Linked DNA regions of Homo sapiens: region 2 is linked to region 1. Evidence: fine-mapped expression QTL. A gene starts in region 1. The other region holds a variant in brackets. All regions are shown on one strand. Distances are from middle to middle. Region 1 holds the start of CLEC9A (C-type lectin domain containing 9A). Region 2 overlaps LOC105369655 (a long non-coding RNA gene).

What was found.
Region 2: its variant is fine-mapped to the expression of CLEC9A in whole blood (INTERVAL, PIP 0.96).

What each region holds. Positions count from the first base shown.
Region 1 is chr12:10,029,357-10,032,275 of GRCh38, reverse strand. It overlaps CLEC9A (C-type lectin domain containing 9A), which reads right to left and starts at 1,594. Exons shown (of 9, transcript NM_207345.4): 1 at 1,304-1,594. LOC102724020 (a long non-coding RNA gene) reads left to right here and starts at 1,653. Exons shown (of 4, transcript NR_169587.1): 1 at 1,653-1,733.
Region 2 is chr12:10,131,086-10,134,004 of GRCh38, reverse strand. LOC105369655 (a long non-coding RNA gene) reads right to left here. Exons shown (of 4, transcript XR_007063208.1): 2 at 2,765-2,919; 3 at 2,213-2,320; 4 at 391-719. Among named protein-coding and RNA genes, the nearest start is that of CLEC7A, 2.3 kb to the right of the region's middle. RefSeq lists an enhancer at 1-267. The variant C/T (reference allele first, on the strand shown) is at 1,552.

The DNA of each region.
Region 1 (2,919 bases):
TGGCGTCTTTGCCCGAGTTCTTGTCCTGCGTCTATGGTTGCTAGATTGTATGTTAATATTATACTTAGCTCTGTAAGAAACTGCCACACTGCCTTCCAAAGTGGCTATGCCTTTTTACCTCTCACCAGCGGTGAATGAATGCTCCTGTTGCTCCACATCCTTGCCAGCATTGGATGTTGTGAGTATTTTGGATTTTAGTCATTCAAATAGTATACAGTGGTTTCTCATTGTTGTTTTAATTTGCAATTCCCTCCTAAGGTATGACATTGAGCATCTGCAACACTGAACTTAGCTCTCCAAACAAGGCTCAGCCTTGTCTGCATTCCTTTCCCTACCCTCACTTCCCCTTCTACTTGGAATGTTATTTGTAGCATTTGTTTGTCTCCTGTAACCCTGCCAATCCTTCCCAATCCTCAGAGCCTTCACTGACAGCATCGGGCGGCTCACTCGTTCCTGCTGCCATAGTAATTTGTGCGTAACTTTTCTTGAGATTTATCACATCCTGTTATTATATGCTGTTTCTTCTACCGACATTGGTTGCTACTCCCATTTCTCAACCTCCTGGCTTCAAGCAATCCTCCCACCTTGGCCTTCCAAAATGCTGGGATTACAGGTGTAACTAACTGCACCTGGTCTTGCTACTCCCGTTTCTAAATAAAATTTCAATCTGAGTAAAAACTAAAGCCAATTTCTTCCCAAAATGGTGGGGGGCACTGGACACAATATCGAAGACCATTAGCACAATCAGTAGCACCAGACAATGAGTCAGCAGAGTCACTAAAGCCTCAGGCCACGAGTTAGAAGACACTTCACAGATTAAAGGAAATCAACAGAGGAGTAAGAAATAACCAGGGATGGCCTCCTGGAGATTTCGTGTTTGACTCCCTTTCCCTCTCTATCTCTAAAGAGAAAGTGCAGAGGGCATTTTAGACTGAGGGATCAGTAGGAGCAAGAGTAAGGAAGCTACCTGATTTACAGAGGCTGTCTACTGCCTGCAGTATCAGGCCATTGAAATACACTTAACGTCTTTCCACCAGCGGCTCCAGCCTTCCCCTCCACTTGCATCTTCCCTCATCCATCTCTGCAGATGATACATACTCCCACATATCATTCATTATTTCTTAAATATATCAGCTCACACCTTCATATTATTTTACATTTCTTCAGAATCTTTCCTAACCTAGAATGCCCTTTCCCCTTTCTCCTTTAATCATGCCTTTCTTATAAAGTAGGTTCAGATGACCTTCTCTGTCAGCATCATCTGTAATGACATACCTTCCACCCTACTGCCAGTGGTTCTTACCTCTTCTGCAGAGAGTATCATCAGTTTGAATCATTTAGATCTTGGCTAACATGGGAATCTTTACCATTGTGTGGATCAAATACCCAGATCTTGATAAGAAAAATAAAAATGCTATTGTCACATAAATGGCTGGGTTTAATCATCTGTGGGCCTTAGAGTATGTTTTCTTCAGGACAAGGTAGGCCGTTGTGCTTCACAAGAGCTTGCGAGTTATTTGAGAAGAATCAAAACATGTTGCCAGTCTAGCAGAAAAGCATTTCAACTTCACCACAGATTGCCACAGCCGGGTACAAACGGAAGTCCCGCCCCCTTCCAGGTTGTTGGGGTGGGAGCTGCCGGATGAGCTGCTGCGGCCCTCGGGGCGCAGGACCACACCATCTGCGCAGCCTGCACCCTCGCGGCCCGGTAAACTTGACAGTTTCTTATAGAGGTAAGTATAGTATTAACAGACAATCTAGGAACCATAGAAAGTGGAAAACCTGTACACACTGCTGAGACCAGCTCGGTCTGGGAGACCCTAACCCAGAGGCGCTAGAGGAATTAAAGACACACACAGAAATATAGAGGTGTGAAGTGGGAAATGAGGGGTCTCACAGCCTTCACAGCCGAGAGCCCCGAACAGAGATTTACCCACGTATTTATTAGCAGCAAGCCAGTCATTAGCATGGTTTCTGTAGATATTAGGTTAACTGAAAGTATCCCTTATGGGAAACAAAGGGATGGGCCGAATTAAAGAAATAGGTTGGGCTAGTTAACTGCAGCGGGAACATGCCCTTAAGGCATAAATTGCTCATGCTATTGTTTGTGGCTTAAGAATGTCTTTAAGTGGTTTTCCACCCTGGGCGGGCCAGCTGCTCCTTGCCCTCATTCCCGTAAACCCACCACCTTCCAGCATGGGTGTTAGGGCCATCATGAACATGTCACAGTGCTGCAGAGATTTTGTTTATGGCCAGTTTTGGGGCCAGTTTATGGCCGGATTTTGGGGGGCTTGCTCCCAACACACACAAAAACTGGCACACACATTTTCACAGGAGCTTTATTCATAATTGCCAGACATTAGAAGTAATTATGATGTCTTTCAAAAGATGAGTGGATAAACAAACTGTGGTACATTCATGCAATGGAGTATCATTCGACAACAAAATGAAATGTTGTCAAACTATGAAAAACATGGAGGAATCTTAAATGCATATTACTACGTGAAAGAAGCCGGTTTGAAAAGCTATCATATTATCCTAGCTATATGACATTCGAGAAAAACCAAGACAAAGAAAACAAAGAGATCAGTTGTGACCAATGATTCAGGGGAAGAGGAAGATTGATAGGAAGGGGGAAGATTGCTGAGTAGGTAGGGCACAGGGGATTTTTGTCTGCAAAAATGTACACCCATGTACATAAGCAGGGCTCTGAATTTTTTAAACTTTTCAAATTTTGTGGCAGGGCCTATTGAATGGGTTGAGGGAGACCTTCCTGATTGATACCTACTAATGTATATACAAATTTGAGACAGATATTTTGAGGGAGAGTGGAATTCAGGTACAACATACCTATTACCCCAGAAAGGTGTCAAGTGGAAGTAAAAAAAAAAAAAAAGAGGTGTGTGAGGTAAAAAATTA
Region 2 (2,919 bases), 100 kb before region 1:
CTGGGTTCAAGTGATTCTCCTGTCTCAGCCTCCTAAATAGCTGGGATTAAAGGCACCTGCCACCCCACCCAGCTAATTTTTTATATTTTTAGTAGAGATGGGGTTCCATCATGTTTGCCAGACTGATCTCAAACTGCTGACCTCAGGTGATCCACCTGCCTCAGCCTCCCAAAGTGTAGGAATTACAGGCCTGAGCCACCATGCTCGGCCTTCCACCTGTTTCTTGCATTAACATTTAATGAGGGGTATTTTTCTCTGAATACCCAGCCTATCTCTCCCACTGTCTTGAAATACGAAGGGTATTGTTTTTCTAGTTTGTCAATGATTTGCATAATTAATGTTTAATTGCTTTATTTTAGACAAAGAGACAAAAAAGGAGAATAATGAGAATTAGACTAAAGTTTATGTTTATTGAAAAATTTCTTTGACCACTTAGAGAGTTAACTGTTTTCATAGGATTGTGATTAAACACAGGGTGACAGTCAAAGTCACTATAGGGAAAAACTCTCCCACTGGAGGTCTGATTTGATAGTAAAGACAGCTTCTTATTACTGACTGCAAGGTACTCCCCTCATTATTGTTCTCTAGTTCTCTATTTCTATTTAAGAGGTCGACCCTTTTTCCTGGAGCCAATGTATTCACTGTTTGAGAAATTCCATGGTATCCCTTTGTAGGGGTGAAAGATTCCTTTTCCTCACTCATTGCTAGGTTCACGGCATCTACAATAAAACATAGATCAACAAGAGAATAGCATCCAAATTTATTTAATAGAAGTTACCTGAACAAACAGGCCTTGTTAAGTTCTACTCAGCTTATTACCATTAGATTATACCCTTTTGTTCTCCAGTCATACTTCTGCATAACTGTCCGTAGAAATACTCAGTTTTCCCTGCGTCTTCATTTCAGAAGGCTCTCTTGTCGTATAACATTTACATGCTTTTGTTTTGTTAATCTGTCTTTTGTTATAGGGGTCTCAGTCACGAACCTGGTGATGGGCAAGGAAAAGATACTACTTTTTCTCCCCTACGTTGGACAAGGAGGGTATGATCTAATGCTAATAAACTGGAGGGAGCTTAGCAAGACTAATTTGTTCAGATTCTTCTTGGCATCTCTGTATCTTCAAAGATAAGGAAGTTTCTTTCCTCTAGGAAACAATACTTCTAAAATAAGGGTCTTATGATCTGCTTCAGGGCAGAAAGACGGGGAAAGGTGTGAGAGTGAATTTCCTGATTCTGCTGTTTTCTCAAATGCCAAGAATCCATATTTTGGGGTTGCATGTCCTGAACCTCATACGCTGCTTTCCAAGCACTGCATTATAGGACTGAAACACTGATGAATGTTGAGATTAAGATCCACATTACCACTTTGCAACATGTCTACAAAAACTTAGTAAAACTTTTGTGGCAGCTTAAGTAAGGCGGGAAGCTCATTTATGTACTCTCTTGAGCTCTCTTCCATTTTGATAGGTGTTAGACTGTCAGAACTGCAGAGCCCTCATCATATAACAACTCCTCCCAAATCTCTGCACTAGAGACTTGGCAAACTCTAGCA[C/T]GCCTTCTAGTAGCCTAAGGCAAGGTCCATAGGATGATTCAGCACTACTTAAAAGGCCAGCCTGAGGAAGCCCAATGCTGCTAGGAGAATTTACTTTTTGTTCCAGTTAAAACTTGTTAACAGGCCAGGTGTGGTGGCTCATGCGTGTAATCCCAGCACCTTGGGAGGCCGAGGCGGGCGGATCACGAGGTCAGGAGATCGAGACCATTCTGGTTAACACGATGAAACCCTGTCTCTACTAAAAATACAAAAAATTAGCCAGGCATGGTGGCGGGCGCCTGTAGTCCCAGCTACTTGGGAGGCTGAGGCAGGAGAATGGCGTGAACCCAGGAGGCAGAGCTTGCAGTGAGCCGAAATCGCGCCACTGCACTCCAGCGTGGGCAACAGAGCGAGACTCTGTCTCAAAACAACAACAACAACAAAAAACTTGGTAACAGATAGGCTCCTGAATTCCTTTTAGAGCAGTTACTTTAGAAATCTTACAGTTAGGCCAGGTGCAGTGGCTCACGCCTGTAATCCCAGCACTTTGGGAGGCCGAGGCAGGCGGATCACCAGAGGTCAGGGGTTCAAGACCAGCCTGACCAACATGGAGAAATGCTGTCTCTACTAAAAATACAAAATTAGCCTGGCGTGGTGGCACATGCCTGTAATCCCAGCTTACTCAGGAGGCTGAGGCAGGAGAATCGCTTGAACCCGGGAGGCGGAGGTTGTGGTGAGCCGAGATCGTGCCATTTGCACACCAGCCTGGGCAACAAGAGCGAAATTTCGTCTAAAAAAAAAAAAAGAAAGAAAAGAAAAATAAATCTTACAGTTAAATTCTTTCTCTGCCCTTTGAGAAGCAAATCTACCACACAGAACTGTTTCTTCAAGGACTTGGGAGCTGTTTCTTTGAAATGCAAACATTCAGGGAGATAAATCTTGCTCTTTCTTTCAGATGCAGCATAAGGACCAACTTAGCTGGGTGCTTCACTTCAACTATCACCATGTCCTTCTGTCATATAGATAGGCAAAGTTTCTCTGTCCTCTGGATAAGGGCCAATTAACAAATCCAGAGAGTCTAGTCACATTAACTTTCCTTAACACCACTCAGTATCTTTTCCTTAGCAAACTCCACTTTAAAATGTCATCAGCTTTACTTTTGGGGAAGTTGAGTTCAGTTAATGCTGCACTGGTTCCTGTTGCAATAGTATTACTGAATAAAACCTGTCCTCACCACATTAACTAGTATCCAGATTTGTTGATCCTTGACAACACTCAGATGTCTCCTGCACTCTACTGGCTTCAAGGTCGGATAAATGAGTTGAACACCTCTTCAGTTTCCAGCAATGTTAGGTGTTTTCTATATTTCTTTGATTTGATCATTACTAT